Homo sapiens: one gene and its partners. The protein of the gene in region 4 interacts with the protein of the main gene of each other region in a pairwise test. Each region holds a gene or a part of one and is shown on either strand. Other genes may lie near its edges.

Region 1 (7,807 bases), on a different chromosome or scaffold from region 4:
CTTTACCTAAAAGCAGCATTTGACACACCTGATCACTCCCTTATTTTTCACTTTGCTGCCACATTCTCCTGGGGTAGTTTCCTCCCATCTTACTACAATCTCCTTCCCAGTCACCTTTGCTGAATTCTTTTCTTCTCCCCAACTCTTTTATTTTATTTTTTGAGAGTCTCACTCTGTCTCTCAGGCTGGAGTGCAATGGTGCCATCTCACTGCAATCTCCACCTCCTGGGAGTGATTCTCCTGCCTCAGCCTCCCAAGTAGCTGGGATTACAGCATGCACCACCACGTCCAGCTAACTTTTTGTATTTTTAGTAGAGATGGGGTTTAACTATGTTGGTCAGGCTGGTCTTGAACTCCTGGCCTCAAGTGATCCACCCACCTCAGCCTCCCAAAGTGCTGGAATTACAGGCATGAGCCACCGGGTCCGGCCTCTCCCCAAATGGTAACATAAGAGTGTCTCAGACTCGGTCCTTAGCATCGTGGGTGATCAGCAACTATTTGGGGCTGGCGGTACAGGCAGTAAGAAGAATTTACCAAGGCAGTTGTAGGTAAAGAAAGGCAGATTTATTAGAGAAAGTATGAAAATACATTGCTGCCAGACGTGGTGGCTCATGCCTATAATCCCAGCACTTTGGGAAGCCGAGGTGGATCACGAGGTCAGGAGTTTGAGACCAGCCTGATCAACATGGTGAAAACCCATCTCTACTAAAAATACAAATATTAGCCAGGTGTGGTGGCACGCACCTGTAATCCCAGCTACTCAGGAGCCTAAGGCAGAAGAATCGCTTGAACCCGGGAGGCGGAGGTTGTGGTGAGTCGAGATAGTGCCACTGCACTACAGTCTGGGCGACAGAGTGAGACTTCATCTCAAAAGAAAAACAGAAAAGAAAAGAAAATACGTTGCAAGGGTGCAACGGGCAAGTTAGCAAAACAGAAGCTAACTGCAAGAAAACAAAATCTGGCTAAGGATTTTATAGGATGGTGCTTGTGCTGTGTGCTGAAGAGGGCTTTGTGCAGTACTGATAACATCAAGGGTGCAGGGAGCTTGCGTGCATTTTTCTATCAGGTGAGGGTCTGGCAATAGCTGGGCGCAGATAAGATTGTGAGTTATTCGCACAGGAGGGCTATGCATCCTGGGCCATGAAGAAAGGCAGACTTATAGCTTATCTGCTTTCTCTTTTTGCTTTCCCTTGGTCCTGCCAGCCTGACTCCTTTTGCCGAACTAGGACTCCATATTTAGTTCTCTTCTCCCTTAAGGATCTCATCTCTTGAACTCCAGACTTGACTAGCCAACTGCGTACTTGACATCTCCTGTTGGGTGTCTAATAGAAATGTTCAACAAACTGGTCAAAAACTGAACTCCTGATCTTTTCCCCACTTCTAATTCCCAAAATTGCTTTCCCTGCAGTCTTGCTCATTTCAGTTGATGGTAACTCCATCCTTCCAGTGGCTCAGGCCAGGATCCCTGAAGCCATTCTTGACTCTTTCTCATCTCCCACCTGATCCTTCGGAAATCATGTTCAACCTTCAAATACATCCCATCTCCAACCACTTCCCCCACCTGCATTTATACCAGCCTGTCTCTTGCCTGGATTACTGCAAAATCTCCTAGCAGATCCCCTTCTTCTACTCTTCCCCCAACAGTATTCAGTATTTCCAACACAGGAGACTTCAGTGACCCTTTAAAAAATATGTCTTGGCCAGGTGCGGTGGCTCACACCTGTAATCCCAGCACTTTGGGAGGCCAAGGCAGGTGGATCACCTGAGGTCAGGAGTTCAAGACCAACCTGGCCAACATGATGAATCCCCGTCTCTACTAAAAAAATACAAAAATTAACTGGGCATGGTAGCAGGTGCCTGTAATCCCAGCTATTTGGGAGGCTGAGGCGGAAAGAATTGCTTGAACCCACGAGGTGAAGGTTGCAGTGAGCCGACATGGCACCACTGCACTCCAGCCTGGGCAACAGAACGAGCCTCTGTCTCAAACAAACACAAAAGTCTTATCCAGAATATAAAAAGAACTCATATAACTTAACAACAAAAAAGACAAAAAATCCAATTTAAAAATGAGCAAAAAGCATGATTAGATATTTTTCCAAAGAAGATGTACAAATAGTGGCCAATGAGCACACAAAAAAGATACTCCACATCATTAGTCAGAAGGGAAATGCAAATCAAAAACACAATTATAGATGCCATTTCATAATGACTAGAGCACAAGTTTTTTGTACTTTTGTTTTTTTGAGACAAGTTCTCACTCTGTCGCCCAGGCTGGAGTGCAGTGGTGCAATCACGGCTCACTGCAGCCTCTACCTTCCAGCTTCAAGGGATCATCCCACCTCAGCCTCTCCAGTAGCTGGGATTGCAGGCATGTGCCACTACCCCTGGTTAATTTTTTGTAGAGATGCGGTTTCGTCATGTTGTCCAGGCTGGTCTCAAACTCGTGGGCTCAAGCAATTCACCCACCTCGGCCCTCCCAAAGTACTGGCATTACAGGCATGAGCCACTGTGCCTGGCCGGGTACAAATTTTTAAAAAATAAAATACAAGTGTTGGCAAGGACATGGAGAAATTAAAAGCCTCATACATGACATGGCTGATGGGAATATAAAATGTTGCAGCCACTCTGAAAAAATGTTTGGCAGTTCCTCAAAAACTTAAATGTAGAATTACTATATGACCCAGCAGTTTCATTCCTAGGTAAATACACAACGACAATTGAAAACAGGTACTCAAATAAGTATTTGTATGCAAATGTTCATTAGCAGCACTATTCACAATCAGCAAAAGGGGGAAACAATGCACTATCCATCAACAGATGGATGGATAAACAAATTATAGTGTACTTATACAACGGAAAATTATTCAGCCATTAAAAGGAATGGAGTGCTGGACCGGACACGGTGGCGCATGCCTGTAATCCCAGCACTTTGGGAGGCAAAGGCGGGTGGATCACCTGAGGTCAGGAGTTCGAGACCAGCCTAACTAACATGGTAAAACCCCATCTCTACTAAATACAAAAATAAATTAGCCACACGTGGTGGTGCATGCCTGTAATCCCAGCTGCTCGGAAGGCTGAGGCAGGAGAATTCCTTGAATCTGAGAGGTGGAGGTTGCAGTGAGCCGAGATCACGCCATTGCACTCCAGCCTTGGCAACAAGAGCAAAACTCCAACTGAAACTAAAAAAAAAAAGGAATGGAGTGCTGATACATGCTACAGTGTGGATGAACTTCAAAAACATGCCACATGAGGCCAGGCACGGTGGCTCACGCCTGTAATCCCAGCACTTTGGGAGGCCGAGGCAGGTGGATCACCTGAGGTCGGGAGTTCAAGACCAACCTGACCAACATGGAAAAACCCCGTCTCTACTAAAAATACAGAATTAGCTGGGTGTGGTGGCGCATGCCTGTAATCCCAACTACTCGGGAGGCTGAGGCAGGAGAATTGCTTGAACCCAGGAGGCAGAAGTTGTGGTGAGCAGAGATCACGCCACTGCACTCCAGCCTGGGCGACAAGAGTGAAAAAACAACAACAAAAACAAACAAACAAAATGCCACATGAAAGAAGTCAGACAAGAAGGGTTGCATCTCATGTGATTCCATGTATATGAAATATCCAGAATAGGCACATCCGCAGAAGCAGAAAGCAAATTGGTGGTTGCCAGAGACGAGGGGTAAGGGAAAGTTAGGAGTGACTGCTCAGTGGGTATACTGTTTTATTTTTCCGTGAAGAGAATATTTTGGAACTAGATAGAGGTGGTGGATACACAACATTGTGTCTGTACAAAATGCCACTGAATTGTTGACTTTAAAATGGTTAATTTTATGTTGTGTGGATTTCATCTACCCAAAAATAATACCCTTTCTTTGCTCAATATCCTGCAATGGATCCCCAGTTGACTCAGAGTAAAAGACAGCGTGCCTTCAAGGGCCCCGGAGGTCCCACCTGATTGGGTCCCTCTTATCTCTCCTCTCCCTCCCACTCACTCCATTCCAGCCACACTGGCCCCCCTGCTGATCCTCGGAGGCGCCAGGTGGCCTCCTGCTAGGAGCATTTGCTCCAGCAGTTTCCTCTGCCTGGAACACTTTCCGCAGGTATCTGTCCAATTCTTCTAACTTCCTCATCTTCTCCTTACCAATCCCCTGGGGACAATAATTCTCAGTTTCCTCTGTATTCTCAGTTTATCAATTTTTCCTGTTCTAGCGCTGGATTACAACTGCTGGTCTCCCTGCCTGCCTTCCCTGCTTCCCAGAGCACGAAGAAGCTTGCCTCCGCAACCCACTATTTGTGTGACCTTGGTCCAGGAACTGGACTGGGCTCTCCTCCTGAAAGTGGGTAAATAATGTCACCGACCTAATGAGGCTGTTGAGGCATGGAATCTGATCAGGCAGATAAAGTGCCCCTGGCAAACCTCAATTTTCTGTTTCTCAACAAAGCTTTGGCGACTTATAAGAATTTGCGGGAAAGTGTCCAGAACCCGGAGTCAGGAGCCCTGACTTCTAGCCCTGAAGGGCCGCGTGACCTTGGCCAAAGCCCCTAATCCTTCTCAGTCTCAGATCCGGGGGCTGGAAACTGAGGAGGTTCTCCCGGCAAGCCCCTCGGGCTAGTGACATTCTAAGATTCCAAGAGCTAAGGAGCTAGAGGGGTGGGGTGGAGGAGGGAGGCGGGCGCGCCGGATTGGCCTCTGCGCGCCACGTGTCCGGCTCGGAGCCCACGGCTGTCCTCCCGGTCCGCCCCGCGCTGCGGTTGCTGCTGGGCTAACGGGCTCCGATCCAGCGAGCGCTGCGTCCTCGAGTCCCTGCGCCCGTGCGTCCGTCTGCGACCCGAGGCCTCCGCTGCGCGGTGAGTGGGCTGAGGCTGGAGAGGGGAGTCGCTCTGGGAACCCCTTCCCGGGGGCTGCAGGGACACAAGAAATAAGCGCCCAGTCATCGGCTGATGGGTACCCCCCGCCAGGAGCAGGGACGGGAGGGCGCGGTAACCCGAGAGTGTCGCAGACTGGGTGTGTCTGGGGAGCGCAGCGGAGCAAATCTGGGGTCGGGGCGGAGAGGCGCGGGCGGAGGGCGCCCTGGCTAGGGGGAGGGGAGGGAGTCCCGTTGCTGCAGAGGGTCTGGTTGAGGGTCCTGGGCGCCGGAGCTGAGCCAGGGGCTGGTCCTGCCGGCCTTAATTTGGGGGGGCTCAAGAGACTTTGAAGGTCCGGGGTTGGGGTCAGCTGGACGCCAGTCAAAGGACCCGCAGAGAAGGGTGTGGCTGAGGCCCAAGACTGAGAGCAAGAGCGTTGGACCCTCCAGCTGCTTATAAAATGGCTTGTGTGTGGTGTCGGGGGAGGGCTGCCTGCGTGCAGAGAGCTGAACGTCCGGTCGTACATACCTCAGGGCCTCATTGGACCCCATCCCCTTTGGGCCACTGCTTGTCTATGAATGCAGTCTCCCAACGGGGCTCCGAGGCCTCCTATGGTGAGGCAGGGGCACTACCCTTCTTTCTGCATCCCCTAAGCGGTCTAGGCCTTCCCAAAGTTTGGGGGCTTCAAATAATTCCCCATATACCAGCATGGGAGCAAAATACCCTGAATCGGAATCCCAGCCCCTGTTGCAGTGTGACTTTGGGCGGTGGCTTTCCCTCTCTGAGCCTGGATTTCCTTCTCCAAGTCCATAGTTGAGAAACCCAGTCTCTTTCAAAGGAAACAATGGCTTTGAAAACTGATTTATTTGTCAGCTGTATGGAATGATTGCAGGTTTGGGAGTCTTGATTATAGATTTGGGAAGCCTGGCACAACCCTTGTAGGCCCTACAAGGGGAAAGGGCAGGAGGTCCTTTGGGACAACTAATCTGGCCACGGCTTCCTGCCTCCTCCTTCCTTTCCCTAGATTCTAGTGGGTCTTCTCTGACAATTCCAAATTTGGACATATGGCTCCCGGGTTTGTGAAAGGACTCTGGTTTCCCCCCAAGAGTCCGCCCTTTTCCCTCCATTATTCCTTCCCCCTTGCCCAAAACATGCTTGGGATTGCTTCCACTGACCCAGATGGCATATCCTGACCTGCGTAGCCCTTCATGGTGAAGTGAATGACCGCCCCAGTTTCAGCCCCTGTGGACCCTGACCTCCTAGCAGGCAGGCCCTGAGCCACGCCGAGGGCACTGGCCTGGGGTCAGAGGAAAGCCCGGTTACAGTCCGGATGTGCTGGGACTTCTTGAGCAAGCCCTTTCTCTAAGGCTTTGTGCCCCATCTGGAGCAAAGTCTGCTGAACTGGCTGCCACTGCCAGTGCAGACATTCTAGGATTCAACTGTTCTAAGATTTAGGATTCTGGGAGTTGGATGGGACTGGGGAGGGCAGGAGGCAGAGGCTTTCATCCCCCTCTGCAGCTGTGACAATCACTCATCCATCTTTCTTTGCCTTATCTACCCTTTGTTCCTAAGGCAGCATCTGCTGAGATACAGAAAATACTTGCAGTTTCTGGATAAGGGCCACAGCTGTTGCTGGGGCAAAATGTAGATGTGAGTGTGCAGAGGAGGGGCCAGGGAAGCCCAAGGCCTGGCCTCTTGAGACTGACTCCTGGGATGAAGTGGGGGAGACTGCAGTGCTGGATAGCTGCCAGTGACTGGCACATCCGCACTGCAGCATCCAGAGGGAGCCCTGGGCCACCAGGATCCAGCCTCGGACCCAGCCCCTGCCCTGCCACTAATCAGCTAGGCGCCCTGGGCACACCTACTACCCCTCTGGGGCTTAGCCCCTTCCTCTCTACAGGGATAGGACATATACCCAGGACACCCCACTGGTATTAATAAAATGGGTTGGGTCTGAATGGCTTTTGCTCTACCATTCTAGGATTTTCTGGGGAGGCCCAGTGGAATCACCAGCCTCACCCCACCCAGCCTCTCCGATATACTTCCTGGGTGGCGACAAAGCACAGGATGTGGTCTCTACCGTGATTCCTGAGCATGCATGCACCCCTTCTCCTGCCAATAGAGGGGAGGAAGTCGGAGGGGTGTCTTTATGCCTATAAACTTGCCTTGGAATCCAGCCTCACTCCCTTTCCTCCTGGAGTTGAGAAGCCCCCACAGAGACTGGCTATGGGGGAGTGACTGTCTATAGGTTCCTTGGATGTCCTGCCTATCTGCAAAATGAGAATGAGATCGATACCTTCATGAGGCTGTAAGATGGCAGATATAAAAGTGCTGTGTTATCTCAAAAGGGTGTGGTGCTTGAGAAGGCAGGCGACCTGAGCCTCAAGTTCCTCTTCTGAAAAATCCATGTCCTGGTGGTCCTTAAATAATAGCAATAAAATGGTAACCACTATTACCTCTCGAACCCTTAAATTTGCCAGGCCCCGGCTGAAGCCTTGCTATGTTAGACGCTGTTATTAATGCCTATTTTGCAGACATGGAAACTCCAGCCCTTAACAGTTTAAGGAAGAAATAATAATGACAAATGCTTATAAAATATAGTGCTTCCTGTGTGCCAGGTCCTCTTCTAAGCTCTAGACTTGTCTTAATTTTTTTTATCCTCATCATAACTCCTATGAGGGAGGTGCTATTTTTATCCCTTTTTTTTTTTTTTAATATGAAACAGGCACAGAGAGGCTCAATACTTGCACAACACCACACAGCTACTAAATATCACCCTCAGGCTTCAATCTCAGGCAGTCTGGCTCCAGCATCTATACTGTGAGACACTACTTTGCTGCCTCTCACAAAAGTGACCCAAGCTGGGGTTCAAACCTAGGCTAGACTAGTTCCAATCCTGAGGCAGAGAGATGATCTCCTGAGGCCTTGTCCAGTCCTAGGATCAATGGTTCTGGGTCAGGAGAGGAAA
Region 2 (6,702 bases), on a different chromosome or scaffold from region 4:
CAAGGGAGTAGACTAGAGCTGTCAGTCAAGCCCTCTGGGGAACACCTTACCCGGGTTCTCCACTAGAGGCCTGAGGCAGTTATTGTGGTTTCCCTTTGTGATGTGTCACTATTTCCAGAGATCCCAGGCAATCCCTCCAGAACAATACCCCCACCCCACTCCCTCCATGGAACAGGTGCAGTATCTGCCATTCCAGGACCCAGATTTGGAAATCATTTCCCAGGGCTTCACTGGGATGCTTCACTGAAAAAGAAGTCTCCTGCACATTTGGAGTTCTGGCTACTAAAAACTCATGTTAGCATGGGAGTCTCAACACTTACCACCTCCTTCCCCAGGGCAGCTTGAGGTCAAGGTCCAGGACAGAAGGGAAAGCAGGGAGAGTTGGCAATGCCTGTCCCAACCAGGGCAGGGACAGTCAACTCCTTGAACTGGAGGCAAGGAGAGAGGAGGGAAGGCATGGCCCCTGCAGTTCCCACTAAGACCCACCCTGATATCCCCTTAGTACCAGTCAGCAAGGAGGGGAGATGACGCCTTTTTATTAAGGTTAACACCAAGGAAAGCATTGAGAAGGAATACACAAAGGAGGGGGAGGGCACACAAAGTCACCACTTGAGGAGGTGGAAGGGCGGCACATCAGTAAAAGAACCTCAGGACAGCCACATGCTCCATGCCCTGGTTGGGGGAAGAGGGAGAGAAAAGCGCCATTGATAGCTTGGAGCTCGTAGAAGGGTCTGAAGCCCCTGAACCTAACACCAGAGCCACAAGCCCTGCCCCTGAGGGCTCACACACTACTACACAAGTAGACACACATAACACACACAAGACATTATGAAGGCAACACCGAGAGGCAGTGGGCAAGGACATATTGACAGAAAAAGGAACTGAAGTTAAGCAGGTGTAGCCAGGAGAGACAGTTTTTGGCTGCGGCCCCAAGAGTCCCTCAAATGTCCCCTAAATCTGGGCTGCTGCTGAGCACCCCCGAGTCTCTGCCTGTGAACCGGGCTCTTTGTTCTCTAAGCCCCAGGGAGTGGAAAAGCAATCCCAGATGAAGTCAGTGACAAGGCAGGATCCGCTCTGCATGCAAAATCCTAGAGGTTGAGCTATTATGTCTTCATGCACATTCATAGCCAGCTCCTCCCAGCCCAGGGGCCCTTGGAACCCCATTCACCCAGATTCCTAGGGCTGCAGTTCCCTCCTCAAGCTTCCTTTACCAATCAGCAGCCGCAGAGATCTGTGAGGGGGAGAGGCTTCTGCAGAGCACTGAATATCTTGGATTTCAGCAGAAGGGTAAATTTCCTGTTGCCAGAACAAAATACCCCCAATTCCTTAATTTCCAGGTAAATTGTTAGAGATTATTTGCCATGGTCCTAGGTAAGTCCTTTTTCAGAATAGAAAAAGCAGAATTTTATTTACACAATTCACGGGTTCTCCTGTTGTCTGGGAAGGGGGAAAGGACAGGATAGGGATGGATGGGAGTCCAGAGATGGGCGCTTCCTCTCCCGGAGCCTCACCTTTCCGCAGTTCGCTATAATTCGCTTAGTTGGGCAGAAAGAATTCTCGATGCTCCCAAAGTCCTTCACCCTACAAATCCTTCCTCGAGGGAGTCTCTCTCTGCCTGACCCACAAGAGCAGCTGTCCAAGTGAAGCATGCCGCACCGCGCCGTTCAGTCCCCCTCGCGTCATGCACTCGGAAACCCAAAGACAGCCCGGGAAGGTAGTGCCCCACGGAGTCCCCTCACAGGGAGGCCTCGCCCTCCAGTTGCAGCAGGGTAATGTCGGGCATGTCGAGGGGCTCCACAAGTGGCCCGTCCCCCCCAAGGAGACCAGCACAGGGGCTTTCGGGGCGCTCACAGTGACTGGAGGGTGTGGCGGGGCTGGGCATCTCCTTCTCTTCTTCCTCTTCCTCCTCGTCCTCGGGATCGCGACCCAGCAAGCCGCTGTCCCCGATCCCAGGCGAAGGAGTCTCCGGCTCTTGGGGGTCGCTCTGGAAGCTCCCCTTGCCGCCGACCACGCCCAAGCCGCCCTGGCGGGGCGCAGTGGTCATAATCTGGCACATGGAGACGATGGCTCGCTGGTTGGCGCACACGTCGTCCGAGAGCACCTGGATGTGCGAGGCCTGCTCGTCCAGGGCCCCCCTCATGGCCCTCACGTCCTCAAACAGGGCTTGCAGCTGGGCTTTCAGGTGCTCCATCAGTTCCTTCATGCCGCCGTTGTACTCCCCGGAGATCACGTCCCCCACTGCCGGCACGGTGGACACCTCCAGGGGCGCCGGCATGTCGCCGCCGTCCTTGGTCATGATCTCCAGCAGACCGTCCTCCATTGAGTGGCAGAAGCGGGTGGCGGAGGCTCTGGGTCGCGTCCAGCCCGGCCTCCGGGGTGGGGGAGGGGGTGGAGGGGGAGAGGTCCCGGGAGGGGCTAGCGGGAGCCGAGGGAAGCGGAGGCTCCCGAGACTGGCGGGGAGCCGACGTGAGAGACGAGTCCTGGGCAGAGGGCGCAGGCAGGATCGCGGGAGGCCGAGAAGAGGCTGCGGGACGAGGACCCGGCGAGGGTCCCAGAGCCGGCGTCTCTTGGGATCGCCCCGGGACGAAAGTGCCCTGCCCTGCCTCGCCTCCCGGATCGCGCCCGTGTCAGCGCCGCCCTCTGGGCGCCACAAGCAGAGAGCGCCTGCCGGTTCCGTGGGTCACAGACGCGCTCGCGGAGGGGTCCGCGTCCAGGCTGAGGCCAGCGGCGCGTCGGACTCGGGACTCCCCCAGGCCATTACCGGGCAGCGCCCGCGAGTGTGGCAGCAGCAGCTGGGGTGGGTCTCCCGGGGGTGTCGCGGATGCTCCTCTGTTTCCAAGGCGACGCACGGCACGTAAATGACGTGTGTCTCCATGGTAACCAGGAAGTGGCGAAGAAAAAGGGAGGATGGCTGGAAGCTGCAGTGGGGCTCTGGAGTCTGGACTAGCGGGGTGGGGGGAGGAGAGGGGACGCTACAGTGGCTTCGGCCAAGGCTGGAAAGAGCGTGTGGTCGCAATGTTTAATAGGGAAGTATGAGAGAGCCGTCTGCTGCAGAAACCTCCAAGTCCGGGAGAGATCGTCCCTCCCCTAGCCGGGGTATGAGACCCAGCGAGACTGCCCTGGAAAGATTTTTCCAGCCCGCATTCCTTTCTCAGAGGATGGCGCTAAAGTCGAGTCCTGCCTCCCTGTCCTCCAGCGATGCGCAGGAAAGCGGAGAGGGTAGAGAGGCTGTTGCTAATGATCCCAGAGTTGAGCTGGGGCACGGTGGCGCTCTGGAGCCGGACCCACCGGGCCTGACGGTGCAGAGGCAGGAGGAGGGCGCTACGGAGGTTTCTGCAGTAAATCAGCCCTCTAGCTATAGAAATCACCGGAGCGGGGGAAGGATGGGACTCCCTCCTTTATGAGACCCTACCGCTCCTACGCAGGTCTCTGGGAGTTTGTCCCAGATGGGGAGGCCAAGTGCTTAAGTTTTGAGAATGAAAGCTCCATAAGGGGAGAGATTTTTGTCTCCCCTGCACCCTCCATCACGGAATCCCCAGCTCCTAAAATAGTGCCTGGCACCTAGTATGTAGATGCTTAATATAGTTATTGAATGAATAACAAAAACCACCAAGTCCCACGCTCTCATCCAGAACTCCCCAAGCCAAACGTAGTGGGTTTTAGGAGACCTGAATTCAGTTTCGTTTCTGCCACTTATTCATTCAGCGACCTTGGCCACATCATTTTCCTCATCTGTTAGGGAATTGGACTGGATAATCTATAATACTATTTCTAATTCTGAATAACAGTCTGCATCATCTCACAGGTGAAAAGGTAAACTGTTGACCGTTGTGTGGAGGGTATGGATGGGGGGACTGTGTGTTAGAGTAATTCCCGCTCTCTCTTTCAGTGCCCAAGTTCAGACATACACTGAGTATCCCCAACCTTTGTGACAAGCCCTTTCCCTATTTAAGGGGTGGAGCAGGAAGGGTGGAGGAAGAAGAAAAATTGTCTTTAATATACGTAGATGATTGCAGATTGAGAAGGAATCAGCACCTGGGCAGAGCACAATAATTAATAATGACCCTAGGAAATTAGGGAAGCCAAGTGATCGGAAGCCAAAAATGAAGTTCATAAGAATAAATCTGGGAAAGAGAAACAAACTATATCACTTCAAGATAGAGAAGAACTACGTAAAGGTGAGTGTTTTGTAGACTGGCGGTTCAGTGACAGCAAATGTGTTACCTTTGGGTTTCCCTGGTTATGTGCTTGGTGATGAAGAGTGAGGCTGGCCCAGGGAAAGTTTTGTGACACTAGAGGACTGCTTGACCTATACCAATCTTACTGCTTTTAAAATAGAAACAAGTGGGGACTATCCTAAATGACCAGCAGCAGAATGTTTAAATAAACTAAGGCAAAATTGCTGATACATAAAGTATTATGCAGCCATTAAAAATTTGATTTCCCAAAACAAATATATGAACAAATTTTAAAAACACAGTATTGTATTTTCTGAAACTAATGATTCAATTCTATTTGCTTGCTCATTTCTTCCTTCATTCTACAGATTTCCAGCACTCTCACCTTGCTTAGGACTCCTACCTCTGCTCTGTACCCCACACGTGGTAATAACACCTTAGATTACTCCTGAAACTCTGGCTCAAGAGAGGACAGAAATGCTTTTCCTTGGTTTCCATAAGCACAGCTGAAGTGGGCTGGTGTTTACAAAGAGACTTTATTAAAAACTATAGGAAAACTAGAAATAGAAACAGAACACATGAAAACAGCTGAGCTTACACAGCATAAGTTTCTGATTATACTACAGCAAGCATGTTCTCAGGGCTTATAGGTCCAACCCTGCTTTCATCCTTCCGAGGAGAGCTCTGCTATAGCCAGAAAAGACTGGCATGGCTTTCAGACTTTCTGTCTAGGTCTGTTACTTTACATCTCTTGACAAGCACTTCACATGGAAGATTTCATCTTGCCAATTCACCCTTCAGGTATATCCCTACCTTCTACCTACAAAGAGTGACTCTGTCCCAGTGGGGGACCTCTCATTGTTGAAATCCCATAAGCTTACACTAAGCATAGCCCCCATACAGGAGGAGCTATGGTATGTCATCATACAAGGCCTTTTGCCACTATTCTTGAGGATGTGAAGGCTTTCAGCATAAGATTACATCATGCTGTCCAGAGGTGCTGGCCATGAAGTCCACTGAGAGTACAAGGGATCTGAGCCCAGAGGGAGGGGAAATTATTGGAGAAGCACAAAAGGCCATGGGAAACATGTGCAGAGATCAAGCAGTTTGGCTGGTCCAGTCAAGTTCCAGGTCAAACATTTGAGAGCCAAGGGTAGGTGGGAACTGGGGGAGTGGACCAGTAGCAGGATTTGAAAATATAGGAAGGTGGCTGGGTGCGGTGGCTCATGCCTGTAATCCCAGCATTGTGGGAGGCTGAGGTGGGTGGATCACTTAAGATCAGTAGTTTGAGATCAGCCTGGTCAACATGGTGAAGCCCTGTCTGTACTAAAAACACAAAAATTAGCTGGGCATGGTGGTGGGCACCTGTAATCCCAGCTACTCCAGAGGCTGAGGCAGGACAGTCGCTCAAACCCAGGAGGCAGAGGTTGCAGTGAGCCAAGATTGTGCCACTGCACTCCAGCCTGGGTGACAGAGCAAGACTTAGTCGAAAGAAAGAAAGAGAGAGAGAGAGAGAGAGAAAAGAAAGAAAGAAAAAGAAAGAAAGAAAAAGAAAGAAAAGAAAGAAAGAAAGAAAGAAAAGAAAGAAGGAAAGAAAGAAAGAGAAAGAAAGGGAAAGGGAAGGGGAAGGGGAAGGAAAAGAAAAGAAAAGAGAAAAGAAAAGAAAAAGAAAATATAGGAAGGAGACATTGGTGCATCTGATAGAAAACCAGATCATTTCAGGAACTCTGTGTGAAAATGAGATGAGGTAGAAAAGTCTAGTCTCAGGAAAATAAGGAGAATAAGGAGAACAGAGGCAGAGCCTCAGTCAGCTAGATGGGTTACAGGCCTGGGCCCTCTGGATCCCAATGCCCTATAGTTAGTTGCATGGGTCCATTTCCAAGCAAAAGGTGGCCAGATGTATACCCCAGCCATCCTACTAGAATATTCAGAGGAACTGCCACATAATAAGAGAATATAACCCCCGCACAGCTTCTGCTTCCTGCTTTTCTATTATCCTCTGGGAATCCCCTTAGCTATTCTCTTCATCCCACTCTTATCAATCTGTGATAGGGAGAGACCCTCATGCTATCTACATATAGGTTTCCATCAGGTACACCTAGTTTCAAACCTCATATTCTCACTAAAATTGGGATTTGGAAGAGGCTCTGCCATTTTCCTCTGTCTGGTGTCTCGTGTATCTCTAGTTTCTATTTTCTATAGCTGGTGTATTTTTTGCACTATAAATCCGATGATGCTGGCTAGACTCAGGTCTAGAGCAATGATTTAAAACAAGATATAGCTGACTGCTGTACCTTAGGCGCCAAATCCCAGACAGTATCCCCCAAATATAACTTTCATGAAGCTGACCTGTTTTGTGGCCCATCACAGCTTGATATCACACTCAAACATATCCAATAGCCAAAAGAATTAAAAAGAAATTTAGATTTTTATTACAGTCTCTGGGCAAACTTTAAAGGGGTTTACATTCTTAGTGCACAGCGAAACATCTGAAACTTGTCTTCCTTCCTTCTCTATTTGTTCC
Region 3 (7,096 bases), on a different chromosome or scaffold from region 4:
CACCCGCAGCACCAGGGCACGCACCGTGGGGAGGCAGCCTTGGGCTGTGCCCGCGACAGGGCCCCTGCATGCTGAGCAACAGCCTCACATGAGCAGGCAGCACGGCCTCCTCTCCACGGGAGCCTCCACCGCCGGGGCTGTGAGCTTGAGCAGGGGTGGGTCCCCGCCTGCCCTGAAGCCACAGTCAGGCTGGGGGGTCACCGTGTCACCAGGCAGGCCAGGCTCAGCTGTCTCAGGGCTCTCGGGCCCCTCAGGTGGGGGTCGCTGCAGCTTGGCAGCAGCTCGCTGGCGCTTCAGGTCAGCCAGGGTGTGGTGGGCCTTGTCGTGGACCAGGGTGTGGGGGGTGGTGCTGTCCAGGGGGCTCAGCTGGTAGGAGACACTCCGGTCTAGTCGCTTGGAGTATAGATGCCGCACTGGGGAGCCCCCTACTCGGCCATTGTGCGGCCTGACCACTTCGGGGTTGTCCTCCTGCGGGCAGTGAAGGTCCCAGAGCCATCAGGAGGCTCCTCCCCCCTCCCTGGCCTTGGGTTCAGGCTGTATGGTCATGAAGGGACAGACAGGAGAGATGGGGCAAAAGCTGGCCCCTGCAGGGCACCATTCCTGACACAGGCAGGAGGGGGTCCAAGCGGAGAGAGAACCAGGGCAGAGCCAGGCCCACCCCTGCGCTGGGCGGAGCAGGGACGGGGCGCTCACCTCCGGGGGCGGCGGCCTGAGCTCTGCGCCTGTCTGGCGGTCATCGTTGTCCTCGGGCGGCTCCGGGCTGGTGGGCGGCGGCTGTTGCCACACGATGGCCTCCTGGGCGTGCTGCTTGCGGTACAGGTCGGTGCGCTGGGTTAGGCTCACCCGCCTCACCACCTTCCTGGGGAGGAGAGAGGAGAGGGAGTGAGGGGAAGGGGAGTGCCCGGAGGACCCCGCCCACCCCCTCGGACTCTGCCCCCAGTTCGGCTGGCACTCCGCCCGGGGCTGACGTCCGCGGGGCCAAGCCCGGGGCGGGGCCTGCTGGGGGCGGCGCTCACCCGCGGCTGCCGGCGCTGGAGGTGCGGCGGCGCAGCAAGGAGCGCTGGCGGCTCTGGGCGCGCAGGAGGGCGTCGTGCTTGTGCTTCAGCTCCAGCAGCTTGGCCCGCACCTCCTCGTCCCCGCACACATCTGAGAAGTGGGCGCAGGCGTCAGGGGCGCCCTCCCCGCCTGTCCTCTCCCCCAGGTGGAGGTGGGCCCCGCAAGCTCACCAAGGGGCGTCTCGTCCATCAGGGACTTTGCGTTCAGGTCGGCCCCGTGCGCCACGAGCAGCTCCACCAGGGGCACCTGTGGACGGCAGGCCGGAGCTGCAGACTGCTGCGCTGGAAGCCCCCTCCCACCTGCTCCCGCCCGCACTCACCTGGCCCCAGTAGGCCGCGGCGTGCAGCGGCTCCCAGCCGTCTTGGTCCTTAGCGCTCAGGCTGGCTCGGTGTTCCAGCAGCAGGGCAGCCGCCTCGCTGAACCCGTTGGCGGCTGCGACGTGCAGCTGCAGGCAAGCGCCCGGCCTGAATTCGGCCCCATCCCCCACCTCCAAGTAGCGAGGCCCCCAGCCCCGTGTGCCCCTCACCCCCCAGCCCTCACCAGCGTGGCCCCGTGGTCCAGGGGGGCATGGAGGTCTGCCCCGGCCTGCAGCCGGCTCCGGATGTCGTCCAGCATGCGCAGTTCTGGCACGGCCCGGGCGGCCTCGATGCTGTCCTGGGTGATGCCTGCGAGGCGGCAGGCTCAGAGGGAGCGCGACCGGCAGCCCTCCCACAGCCGCACCGCCGCACCTACCACGGTCGGCCATGGCAGTCTCCAGGCAGTCCAGCGTCTGCTCATCATCACACAGGTCATAGGGCATGTTCCCGTCGGTGTTGACCGCCAGGAGATTGGCGCCACTGCAGGGAAGACGGACGGGGTGCTGGGCACAAGGCCCTTCCCCGCTTGCCAGGCTCCTCACTTGGAGAAGTCCCCGCCAGGGCCCCTCAGCCCAGGGCTGCCCCTCAGGAGGCACCCTGTCCACCTGCTGCTGGGAGAGGCAGCCTTGGGGCCCATCGGCTGTCCTAGATCCTGTCATTAAGCCAGACAGGCCTCCTGCAGTCTCTATCCATCCAGGGATCCAGGTTCCTGGCACCTCCAGGGGCAGCGGTGCCCCCATAAACATGCATTGGATGGGCCTGCCTGCTGGGGAGCAGGGAGCACAGGGTGGCGGGGGTGCAGGACCAGGCAGCCACGCTGAGGGGCTGCTGAGCTGTGGGGAGCATGGCCCCAGGGAAGAAGGGCGGTGAAGGGGAGCCCAGAACACAGAAGGGGGTGTCTGTGTGCAGTGGAGGAGCAGGCCTACCTGTGGACACCCCACATCCCCGCCTGCCCCGCAGCGCCTGTGTGTGACGCGACCGCCATGCACACCCCACCCGGCCTCACAGGGGCACTCGAGAATGACCGCAGCCCTGACCTCTCTCCCACTACAGATGCCTGGAGCAAAGGGGAAGGGAGGAGGCTCATGGACCCTCCCTGCTCAGAGTTCCCCCCGCTCTACGTCCCTCTGTGTTAAAGGTAAAGGCCCTACCTGTGCTCAGGTACCCTCTCCTCCCAAGCCACCTGGCCTCCTCACTCTGCTTCCCTCCTTAGCAGTTCTGCCCTCCTCACTGACCAAGACATTTCTCTGTGCACACTCTGGGGGGGGGCCCGAGGCCTGCCCTCTCGGCAGGAGGACGAATGCTGGGGAGGCAGGGACCGCGCTGCCCTGGGCACATGCCCATTCCCCTGGAGCCCCAGGCCCTGCTCTCCATGCCAGGACACAGGCAGGGTCAGCAAAGGTGAAGGCGGGAACACAGGAGGCCGAGAGCCACAGATACTGCCCAAGAGGAGCCTCCTGAGCGGCCATCTGAGAGGAAGCCTCTCCCTGCCAAGGACGCCCAACAGGCCCTACCTGGCGATGAGCAGCTCCACCAGGTGCAGGTGGCCGCAGGTGGCCGCAGCATGCAGAGGCGTCCAGCACTCACTGTCACAGGCATTGATGTTGGCCCCAGCCTCCAGGAGCTGCTGCACCATCTCTCGGAAATCATCAATGCAGCACTGCAAACCGTGCCACGTGAGCGACCAGAGCACGGGGGCCAGCCCCCACCCTGCCCACACCCAGTGCAGGCTGACCTGGTGCAGGGCCGTCAGGCCGTCCTCGTTGGCCAAGTCAGGGCTGACCCCACTCCCAAGGAACTGGCGGACTGCAAAAAGGTGGCGAGGTGAGGACAGGGTCCTGCCCCTGGTCAGGTCCTGTCAACTGTGCTTCGGCCCAGGACCCAGGGAAGGACAAGGAAGACAGTGGTGCCGATGGCAGGAGGCACACCAGAGCCCAGGGGTGGGGGCAGAAGCACCAGGCATCTGTCTGGCCCAGGCCGGTCACACTCCCAGAAGCCCTCTGCCTCCACCCACCTGCAGGCCCTTCATGGTGGTGCTCCAGCCCTCCGACCCCCAGAACAGGCCGTGCTCCTGTGTGAGAGCAGCACTCCAACAATCCCACACCTCCCTCCAGCCCAGGAAGAGCTCCCTGCCTGGAGGCTACCACAGCTCCTTCGGCTCTTCCCTGACAACCTGCCAGCCCTGTGTTCATGAGCTCTCCTGGGTCCTCTGGGACCTGACCTGAGGCTCCCCACCACCAGAGCACATCCCTGCTCTCACTCCCCTCCCCATCAAAGATCCCAACTCGGGCCCAGCTCTCGCCCAGGTCACCAGGGTTCTCCCTGACGGTGCCTGGGGTGCAGCAGGAGGGCTCCCACCTTCCCACAGCTCCCTGTGGACCATGGCACCCTCCGCCTCTTCCCTCTGCCTCCAGGCCTCCCGGGAGGGCTCCTGTCCACATGGAAAGATGCAGGCCAGACACTGCCGGCTCCTCTTTACTCTCTGCTCCGGAGGGAGGCAGGAAGGAGTCTCAAGGGCCACCACAGTGCCTCTTCCCCCAAGACTCCAGAGCACCAGAAGTGGAACCCACACAGCTGGGGCTGCAAGCGTGGGGCACAGGTGAGGAGAAGAGAGTCACAAGCAGAGCCTAGGGCAGGCACTGAGAGGGGGCCACCTGCATAGCTCTGTGCCTGCCCAGGGCCTGGCTCTCTCACCCACAGAGGTGGCTGGTCCCACCCTATTTCACGGAGGTGGAGACCAGGGCTCTCCTGAGCAGCCTAACAAGAAGCAGCAATGACTACCGGCCACCCCTGCTCCCGTGGGGCCCCGCACTAGGTTTTTCTGCAGGCTCCTGGGGGTCCACTCATGGCCTCAGCTCACCTCACAGCAGGAGCCCTCTGCATGCAGCCCCCGCCTGAAGGACGGCTGTCCCGCACAGGCTCACCTCAGGGCTGCCCACTGCTTGGGGCTTGCCTGATGGGGGCACCCTGGGCCACCCAGCCTGAAGAGACCAGGCAAGATCTGGGGGCTGGAGCCCAGGAGCTGTGGACAGGCCCAGCCCCCAGCCTTGGCATGAGACGGCACCCAGGTAGCAGGGAGTGGGCCGTCTGCTGGGAGCTGCTCTGGGCTCAGCCACACTCACCTTCTTCCAGGTCATTTCGGGCAGCGGCCTCCAGAAGGACAACACTGGGAGGGAAGAGGACCTGCTTCAGGAGCCCTTGGCTGGCTGCCTCCTTCCGGGGACGCTCCCCAGGACCCTTCTTGCCCTGGGCCTCCTTCTCAGCCTGGGCCCACATCTTCACCTGCTGGGCGCGCCGCTTCTGGGCATGCTTCAGCCGCTCCTGTGTGCTCATCCTGCCCACCATGGGCATCTCTGCCAGCAGCTCCAGGTGCTCGGCCATGGCGGCGGCTGCTTGCCCACAGGGCTGCTCGGGGCACCAGAGTGGGGAGCTTGGGGGCCAGGCTGGGCCTGAGGGGTGGGGCAGCTAGCTGGACTGGCACCCTCGGGGGCATCCCCTTCCCAGAGCTTCGTGCCCTTGGCTGGGTCAGGAGGCCCCACACAATAACCAGGCCCAGGCAGCCCTGGGGGGCATGGGCCGGGGCAGGGAGGGCAGTGTGGGAGGGCACCCCAAACCTGCTCCCCAGGCCAGCCTCTAGCTGTCGACAAGCAGCGCCTCGCCTCCCTCTCGGGGTCAGGGTGCACAACCTATGGGAGGCAGCCCCGAGACCTGGCCGGCCTCAGTGCAGGGTCTGAAACTAATTACCCAGATAACAAGGTTCCAGCTTCCGGGCACCCTGCTGAGGGGGAAGGGAGGGCAGGGCCAACCAGCAGTGAGAGCCCCTGTGAGCCCCTGAGAGTCCTCTTTTCACCTTCTAGGCTCAGGAGCCTGGGTGGGGCCTGGGAGCAGCCATGACCCAGCCCCCAACCCCTCCCAGCTGTGTGCCGAGGTCAGTGCATCAGTACTAACGAGGAGGTGCAGCCGCTGAGGCTGGGGGAGGGCAGGTAGTCAGAGTCCTGGAGTCCTGGCCCCAGGGCCCAGGGGTGAGGCTCTCTAGGCAGCCAGGGCACCAAGGGCACAGGCGGGCCGGCCGCAGTGTCTTCAGGAGCACCTCCTCTTCCAGCAGCTGCTCACACCTGAGAAGTGGGGAACAAGGAAGCATATCAAGGCCGGCTTGAGGCAGGGTGGCCCGGGGGAGCCCCTGCCCTGGGCCTCAGGTGAGACCAGGCTTCCAGCTGTCTCAGGTCCTGCCCTGTGTGAGGCCCACCCTTTGTCCACAGAGAGCACTGCAGGTCAACAGTCCTGGGGGTACGGGGAGCTACTCTGCCCCCATTCTGCCCCAGGTTCAGAGAGGGGCGGGGGAAAGGCATGTCAGGCTCCTCCCACCCACCCTTTCCAGAAAGGGCCGCCCACCCCAGCGAGGCGTTCCCTGCTAGGCTGCTCCTCCAGGGCCAGGCGCTGCCCTAAGGCTGGGCAGGGTGAGGTCTCGTGGAACAGCCTTGAGGGCTTTGCAGGCTACTGCCTTCCAAGGGCAGGCCCCGCCTCCTGGGCCTCCACCTCTCCTGCCTTCCAAGGGTAGGCCCCGCCTCCTCCTGTCCTGACTGATACCCCAGCCTCTCACTGCCCAGTCTCTAGACCTCTTCCTTGATGGGCTCCCACAATGCCTCTGCCATCCTAGGCTGCAATAAAAGCCCCCACCTGGTGCCTGGCTTGAGGCCTATGGGGACAGACAGGCAGGCAGACAGCTTCGGCTGGGGCACAACCCTGCCTATGTACCTGCTATGGCCCTAGTCCTGCCCGACACACTAAGTGTGGTTGCTGGGCTGGCCACAGGCCTCACCTCAGAAGGCACTCTGTGCTTGGCCAGGCGCGGTGGCTCAGGCCTGTAATCCCAGCACTTTGGGAGGCCAAGGCGGGTGGATCACGAGGTCAGGAGATCGAGACCATCCTAGCTAACAGGGTGAAACCCCATCTCTGCTAAAAATACAAAAAAAATAGCTGGGCGTGGTGGCACGTGCCTGTAGTCCCAGCTACTCGGGAGGCTGAGGCAGGAGAATGGCGTGAACCAGGGAGGCAGAGCTTGCAATGAGCCAAGATCACGCCACTGCACTCCAGCCTGGGTGACAGAGCGAGACTCCGAGAAAGAAAGAAAGGAAGAAAGAAAAGAAAGAAGGCACTCCGTGCTCTGCAGAAGATGCCTGCCAGGAGTCCTATTCTCCACCCAGCCAGGCCTCATGGCCATCTACACACTGACCCAACTCTTCACTGCTGGACTTCTACCCAGGTGTTTCATAGAATGCCCCCTTCTTTCAGAAAGGGAACTGTCCTGGGCCAGGTCAAATTAAGCCAGTCAGGTCCTTCCTGCTCAGGGGCCCCCAATTTATCTGGGAGCCCCACTTTACAGGTTCAGCCTACTCTAGACATAGTCCCCCCCTGTAGGCCTAGCCTCAGAGGCTTCCTGAGGACACGGCCAATAAGGCCAGTGGCCCTGACCTGGCTTTCTGCCTGCCAAGTAAAGAGCTTTTCCAGGCAGTAACTCTCCCTCCGAGCAGCCTGCTCCTAAGCCTGGCCAGCTCTGTAGACCGCAGAGGCCAGGGCAAGCACACACTGGCCAGACACCCTGCCCAGGCTCCCAAGTCCTCCCCTTGCCCTCTAGAGACACAGCATGGGTACCAGAGAGGCAGGAGAGCCAGTCTTGCAGGCAT
Region 4 (7,096 bases):
CCACTAAAATGTGGTACCTGTAGTTTTGCTTTTATGATAGGAGCAAAGCTCTTTGCTTCTCTAAATTGTTTTGGTGTTAGAAAAATTCTGTTACATGGTTAGAATCCCCAGGCTGTAACATCCAAGCATGAAGCAGAACCTCTCCTCTGAGCCTCAGGTTCCTCAATGCTAGAGGATTTTTAGGCCAACGAAGATTAAAGTTAATTAAAGGAGGAACCTCAGGTTCCTCCTCTATAAAAGAAGCATAAATGCCACCAATTTATCAATCCAAAGTGTGGGTAGGATGAATTTAGACAACAGGTCAGTGAGTGCTCAGCATGGCCGTGGATGGTGCTCTACGTTAGTTCCCTTTTAATCATCTGGAAAGGAAGAGAAATGCTCAAACACAGAAGGAGAAAGAAGCTTTTGTGCATGTGCTCAGCCAACATGTGCGCCTTCCTCCTAGTTTCCTGTTGTCTGCAGTGTCTCAAGGGTGACTGGCCAGATGACGTGGACAGAAGTTGCTACTCATGGACAGAGAAAAATACCCAAAGTGCCATTCCCACAGGCAAGCTCTCTTTCCTCCTCTTCAAGTAGAAAGTAAACTACACGGTCAGGAATCTTTTTGTAATACTCAGCTGCACTCAGTGAGAGAAATAGAGACTTACAGGTTTTAAGTGTTTTTTATGTGATAGAAAACTTATCAGGAAATCAAGGAAGTCACCACTGACATGATTGACTCTGAAGTGACACGCAGGAACATGCCAGATTGCCACTGCAAGGGGGTGTGGTATGTTGAATGCTGGCTGATGCTGTGAACTGGAGGATTTGTTTTCAGTTGGGCATGGAAATTCAAATGAGCCCAGCACAGCCTACACAAAGGATACCCTGAGACAACACAGCCCTGGGATGACAGCAATGCACTCGGCTTTAGAGAGCGAGCAGCCGCAGCATGGCTCCACAAAACTGGCAGAACCAGAAACCATCTGGGTCAGGTACAGGTGACCTGAAGGCAGCAGCCAATGCTGATCAGATTGGATGAGCCAGAATAGTGGGACCCACAGGAAAAGATGCCCATGGCCAGGCCTGCTACCCTCTCCACGCAGCCCCAGGCTCTGGGATGTGCTGAGTGGACAGGACCTGCCCAGTGGCCTAGTGTCATGCATTCTTCATTTCCCCAGCACAGGGCCCCTTCCTGGCAAGTGTGTCCCCCTCCCCCAGAACCATTGCCTCTGGCTGTGACATGCCCCTTCACTTGGCCACTCACCGTAATCACCTTGTTTTCTAGATCTGCTCCTCCTGCCAAGCTGAACCCAAGACCAGCACCTTCCTCCTTGTGTAAGATGGTGACATGGATGCCGTCTAATTGCTGCAGAGGAAATACATACATTCAAAAACATTTTACTGCAAGAGGATGAACAATTTAACATCGGACTGACATCAGACTGATTTGTTATCTCAAACCCCAGCTTGGCCAGCCTCCAAGTTACATCACCTCCTCAAACCTCAGTTTCCTCATCTGTAAAGAATGGACCTTCAGGAGTCATGGGAAGCTTAGAAGAAAAAAAAAATGTATGTAAAGCAGCAAGCATAATTATTTTCCTCTCTCATTCACCCTGTCCACAGCCGGGCAGGGGGAGTGCCATGAAGTCAGCCAGAAATCAGCATATTGGACAGTGTGAGATGAAGTCAGGTTGTAGGACTTCAGGTAAAACAAAACAAAAAAAAAAAACAACAAAAAACAAAACAGGGGTCAGTGCTGTTCTGCAGGAATTGGTTGCTCCTTCTTCCCTTCTACTTCTCCATGGGTCACAGCAGCAGCACTAAGGAAGCCCAGCTAACATCCTGCCCCAATGCACAGTGTGCAAGTGTGACACACACACACACACACACACACACACATTACTACGGTACTTCCTAGCCTAGACGGGGACTCCCATGGAGCCAGGACACAGTCAGAGACTCCTATTCCAGTCTAGAGCAGGGGTCTCAAACTCAGATGCCTATAGGAGTCAGGCAGGTCCCTAAAATGAGCCAAATGGGCAGATGTGTGATAGGAACTGCAGAGCGCCAACGAGTACATCTGCTCAAAGGGTCAGCTCTACGTAGGCATACAGAACTAGCGCTACCAGATCACTTCCCTAAAGTCCAGGTTTCAATTCAGGTTTTATCATGTATAGAATTCAATATTTTTTTCATCACCATGCAGACCAAATAAAGTACACCTACAGGTTCTTGGGGCACCTGTTTGTACCTTGGCACTAAGGAGTAAACTTATGTCAAAGAATTCACTTGCTCAGCGTCACTAGAGCACCTGACTTGCAGCTGTCCCTATGATCCTAAGACTTGGAGCCCCTAAGACCCAAAGGCATGGAAGGATGAATGTACCTCACTGCACCCTCACCTCCAAGCCCCAACACTAGCCCAACTCTCTCAACTTTTACCCAAGTATCAGGTTACTTGCCTTGTAGAAGGCTCTTCTCATGTTAGAAAGCAAATACTCTCCCCAGAGCAGCTCAGGCAGGATGGCTCTTTGTGTTTTACACGCTCTGCCTCTGTTATTTCATTTGCACTGAGTAAGATCCTGGGGGATGATGGTCCCAGGTGACAAGTGAAAGCCACAGCGAAAGAATCTCAGCACAGCAGCACCTTGGGCTCATCAGACTCACCTACACTCTTGATGTGGAAATTGCAGCTATGAGGCCTCCTTGTATGGAAAACGAGAACCTCCTTATCCTCTCATCCTAGCCTGGATCATTCTAGTGCCAAAAGCCTACGGAGGCCTGGGGCAGCACCTAGAGGGTGCAGGACCCATGAGCCTGAGCTCATTTGACTGCTGGCCCCAGCTCAGCCTGGCCACTTCCTCCCCACACCCCTTTGGGTCATGCTCAGAAAACATATGGGAAGTGAGACTTTCAGAATGACTTGACTGAAGCGTGGGGGACTTGTGAGCCCTGGGATCAGCCACCTCTCCATGCACAGTGGAAATAATGAAAGCTCCAGGTGAGAGCTCTTGTAACCCACATTGTTTACAATGGACAGCATCCCACAACAGACACATGCCAGGACAGCAGCACATGGAATGTGGAAACAGCACTGAACTTGAACTTGGAGACAGAAAACCCAGGTTCTGTAACCTTGATTGAGCCTTACCTTTCTCATTTATAAAATGACAAAAGAAGATGCAAGAAGTCAATCTACTGAAAGTGGTTCACAAGCTAAAAGGCTCTCTTCAAATGGAAGGTCTTACTGTGGTCAAGTGCTACAGTGTCCCACCATCACAGGACGCAACCTGGGTCTGATGTGAGCAGGCTACTCAAGCTACTTCCCCTCTGGCCCAACTAAGGTGGCCACACAGCCATAATAAGCCATTGGTTACTGCAGATGCTTACAAAGGAAACCTACCTTTAATGTTGCTTCATCCAGAACCTTCACCTCCTCGATGAGTTTTTTTAATTCTTCTGAGCTCAGCAGGGAGATAACGGACTGACCAGACTGAAGGGAACTGTGGTCCCCATCATCGTCTTCCTTGGCTTCCGTGAGACCCTCTGTATATTCTCTCAGCTCTGAAAGGCTTTCATAAGGAGAAACAACACACAGTATGAACAACAATATTAAAAAGAGGTAACAGTGATTGTATAATTACTATGTCCCAGGTGTGGTGCCAAGCACTTATGTGCATATTATTTGATGCAACAAATCTATGAGTAGATACTAGCATACCTTCACTCTACAGATATTTCCCAGCAGTGTAAGAATAATAAATAAAACTAATAAATGCAGAGCTACTTTGATCAGAGGGAAGACCAAGCCCCAGCCCTACAGCAGGGACCCTATGGCACGTCTGACATCCTCTTGGTTCTGCATAGAAGGTCTCATCCATCTCCTAATTTCAACTGACAAGGAATCTGAGGGTGAGCATGGAAAGAACCTGCTCATAGTCAGAATCAGTGCCTAAGCTGAGACTAGGACCCAGACATCCTAACTCCCTGACGAGGGAGTTGAACCCACGTGCAGAGTACAAGTGGATTCCATTTGGAGAGTAAGAATTCCTGATGGATAATTTCCTGGCCTCATTCTGGTCTTTCTGAGTAACCGCAGGACATTTCAGATGTGCATCAACCTTCCAAATCTCCACAGGCGTATGTCAGCCCTCATGAGCAATTCACCAGGGAGCCAGTCCCACCTCCTACCTCCCAGCCCTCCTGAAGCCAGATGTTGTGAAAACTCCTCCTTAATGTGAAAGGCAGAGGTGTAATACCTACAGACAGACACACACACACTCAGACATCTGCACACACATGGAAAGAAAGAGGCAGAACAATTCTTTAATCAATATATCTGGGAATTTTTTAAATTATATATAGGATTATTTTTAAAAATAAAGATGAGAAAGAAAAAGATGAGAAAGGTAAAGAGAAACACCGGGTGTAGAAACTCACTTGAGCGAGAACCCTGTGTCCAAGGCAGATGTTTCAGCAGAACCATTTGCAGCTGAGTCTTCGTTGGATGATGATGTTGGAGATGCCCCTTCCTTGGGGATGCAGGGAGTCTGGGCACAGGAGATAGAAGATGGAAGGCACAGCAAGGATTTCATGACAGCCGATGACACTTGGCTGCTGATAGAATAGAGTTTGCTGGTCTTTTCGTCAAGTAGCTTCGTCTCACAGGACTGGGACCTGGTCAGGGGGAAGCTCCGTGCTCGCTGGCTAGGCATCTTGAGCACTGGGCCTTGAGATTCCTCAGCCTGTGTTGACAGCAGCCTTAGGAGCGGGTCCGGGCCAGGGGGGAGAGTTTTCTGATTGGGCTGCCGCCCTGGGGGAGGGGACTCAGACACACCTGGGTCTCTGGCCTCGGAGGCTGCAGGGGACCCCGAGGACAGTACTTGCTCAGGCTGCTGGGGCACAAGAGTGGGTGCAGCCCCTCGCCCCAAGAGTCCAGAAAACCGTCCTTCCTCATGCTTCCCAAGAGGTTTTGCTGCCTCCCCAGAGGAGGGCTGGAGGCTCAGTCTCTGGGCTCCTTTGTCAGGCAGTTGAGAGGAGCCAAAGGTTTCAAAGGAGCTGATTCTCTGCCTGATGGAGGAGGAGGAGGAGGAGGCCCGGATGTGTGATCCTAGGTGCTCCCTGGAAGCAGGTGCTGGCTGGGTGGACAAGGCAGGATCAGGGAGCCCTCTTGGGTCTGAAGCACGATTCCTCAAACCTTTCAAGCTTTGGCGAAACCAGGCTGGCTTGGGAGCCACAGGAGGACCTTTCTTCACAGTGCTGCTGTCTGCTGACTTGTAAACTTTGGGAGTGCCATTGGCGGTGTCCAGCTTTGGTGGGGTCCCATCTGGGTGGCCCTGTGTCCCTTCTTCTTCATTCAGGCTGGCATTGGGCTGTAGAGGCATGTGGCCATGGTTCTCACTCATGATGGGGCTAAATAAGTTTTTGATGCAGTCAGAAATCCTAACCCAAGGGTCTTCGGCTGTGGTATCAAAGCTATAGTCCATCCGAGCCTGCCTCTTAAGCAGTGGGTGTTTTATCGGGGATGTTTGGGTCACTACAGTGCAGAAACAAGGCCAAAGCTGTGCATTACATCATACAGTGACTTTTCTTCCTAAATTCTAGTTTCCAAGCTGAACAGCAAGAAGGATTCAAGAGGAGGAGATTAGCAGAAGTGGGGGACACCCAGGTGGGTGAACTCCAGGTGCTATTACCTGACTGAGCTGCCAACAGGCAGGAGTGAAGGACCAGAAGTAGGAGTTAATCTCACAGTATCCTAGTGTTTTAGGCCTGGAAGGGTGCTCAGAGAATATCTGGGCCGACCTCTGGCATATTACATTTCAAGAAGGGTAAGGGGCCATCTGATGGCAGTGCTCAGGCAAGACCCTGTGTCTCCTGACTCTTGAAGTTCATGTCCTTTCTACTGCACTAAGGAGCCTCCAAGATACCATGTTAAATGTGTAAAAGCCAAAGCAGTTCTCCTGCCGTTTAAACTTTTAAGACAAAGGTCATGAGTTGGCAGCTGTTTGTGCTTTGACCTACCCGTGTCATTAAAAACAAGGTGCCTGTGCACAGCTTCTGATGGGGCCACTTCGGCTTCCCACAGCTCTTCACGCTCCCTCTCACCCAGCCAGCATTTCCCATGTATGTACCTGCCTGGCCCTGAAGCCGTGTGTTTGCTGCTCTGCCTATACACAGGTCATTGATCAGCTTGCTCTCGGCAAAGGAGTGTTTTCCCTCCCTCAAAAGCTGATGAAAAGGTTCCAGGTAGAAAGGAATCTGTGAAGTAGGATTCTCCACCTTGGCTACATACTGGAATCTGGAGGGCCCTGAAAAATACTGACGCCCACCCCTAGGTACTGACTGAAGATACCTGGGATGCAGCCTGGGTGTTGGGAATGTGATGAGCAGGGGATTGCAATGTGCAACCTGCTCTGTGCCAGCCAGGACCTCAGGCATGCCCTGGAGCACATAGGAGTCTTTCTCAGAAGCCAGCATTGAACCAGCATCATATCTGCATGGGTAAGGGAGAGGGTGTCCTGGCTCTCTTTCCCAGGGGCAGAGGGAGGCTGGCCTGTGTGCCTTGGGGGATGCTTGCTACTGGAACGCAACCCAGTTGAAGGAACTCTGATCCCTCCTGTCCCTTGTCTCAATGCCAGGTTTCAAAAGAAGTGAATCATGGAGCATTACACCTTGATGATATCAAAGAGAAATTCTGCACAATCTAAGAGACTGGCCTTGGGCAAGTGAGCCCAGGCCTCCAGCCTGTTTCTGCATTTTTGAATGGCTTGGCTGTAAGGTGCTGTTGTGAGAATCAGGAGGCAGAGGTTCCACAGGCAAGCCCTTTGCAGATTGGAGTGACAACCTCCTGTCAGTTAAACACTGAGGCGTTTGCTTTTGCTAGAATGTTCCTCAATTAGGGTGACTAAGGGAGAGGAGCCTCCACCCACAGGGCCTCTGCTCTGGGTGAGATGTGCTAGATCTTTCCAAAATGTCCCTTAGCCCTCCAAAAGTCTTTCATGAGCTTTTCTGTAGTGTTACTCAAACAGTCATATGTTTTATAGTCTATATGTTTATTTCCTGCCACTACTAGTTGCTCCTTGGAGGCAGGACCTGACTACCTGGTCTCATCCCTT

What was found.
Region 1: the proteins of IL16 (region 4) and ANXA6 interact in binary tests that used the Homo sapiens proteins (3 or more experiments, as listed by UniProt).
Region 2: the proteins of IL16 (region 4) and CCDC184 interact in binary tests that used the Homo sapiens proteins (3 or more experiments, as listed by UniProt).
Region 3: the proteins of IL16 (region 4) and PPP1R16A interact in binary tests that used the Homo sapiens proteins (3 or more experiments, as listed by UniProt).

What each region holds. Positions count from the first base shown.
Region 1 is NC_000005.10:151,154,715-151,162,521, reverse strand, and holds the start of ANXA6 (annexin A6), read left to right. Parts: upstream 1-4,742; 5' UTR 4,743-4,842; intron 4,843-7,807. UniProt on the Homo sapiens protein: May associate with CD21. May regulate the release of Ca(2+) from intracellular stores.
Region 2 is NC_000012.12:48,179,741-48,186,442, reverse strand, and holds CCDC184 (coiled-coil domain-containing protein 184), read right to left. Parts: upstream 2,800-6,702; 5' UTR 2,321-2,799; coding exon 1,736-2,320; 3' UTR 517-1,735; downstream 1-516.
Region 3 is NC_000008.11:144,494,892-144,501,987, reverse strand, and holds part of PPP1R16A (protein phosphatase 1 regulatory subunit 16A), read right to left. Parts: exon of another isoform or gene 5,528-7,096; 5' UTR 4,794-5,527; coding exon 4,535-4,793; intron 4,012-4,534; exon of another isoform or gene 3,993-4,011; coding exon of another isoform or gene 3,771-3,992; exon of another isoform or gene 3,219-3,770; coding exon 3,148-3,218; exon of another isoform or gene 3,073-3,147; coding exon 2,927-3,072; exon of another isoform or gene 2,466-2,926; intron 1,893-2,465; coding exon 1,789-1,892; intron 1,722-1,788; coding exon 1,597-1,721; intron 1,502-1,596; coding exon 1,376-1,501; intron 1,303-1,375; coding exon 1,227-1,302; intron 1,147-1,226; coding exon 1,017-1,146; intron 860-1,016; coding exon 694-859; intron 469-693; coding exon 85-468; 3' UTR 1-84. UniProt on the Homo sapiens protein: Inhibits protein phosphatase 1 activity toward phosphorylase, myosin light chain and myosin substrates.
Region 4 is NC_000015.10:81,297,801-81,304,896, reverse strand, and holds part of IL16 (pro-interleukin-16), read right to left. Parts: intron 5,594-7,096; coding exon of another isoform or gene 5,550-5,593; exon of another isoform or gene 5,518-5,549; coding exon 4,422-5,517; intron 3,554-4,421; coding exon 3,385-3,553; intron 1,349-3,384; coding exon 1,247-1,348; intron 1-1,246. UniProt on the Homo sapiens protein: Interleukin-16 stimulates a migratory response in CD4+ lymphocytes, monocytes, and eosinophils. Primes CD4+ T-cells for IL-2 and IL-15 responsiveness. Also induces T-lymphocyte expression of interleukin 2 receptor. Ligand for CD4.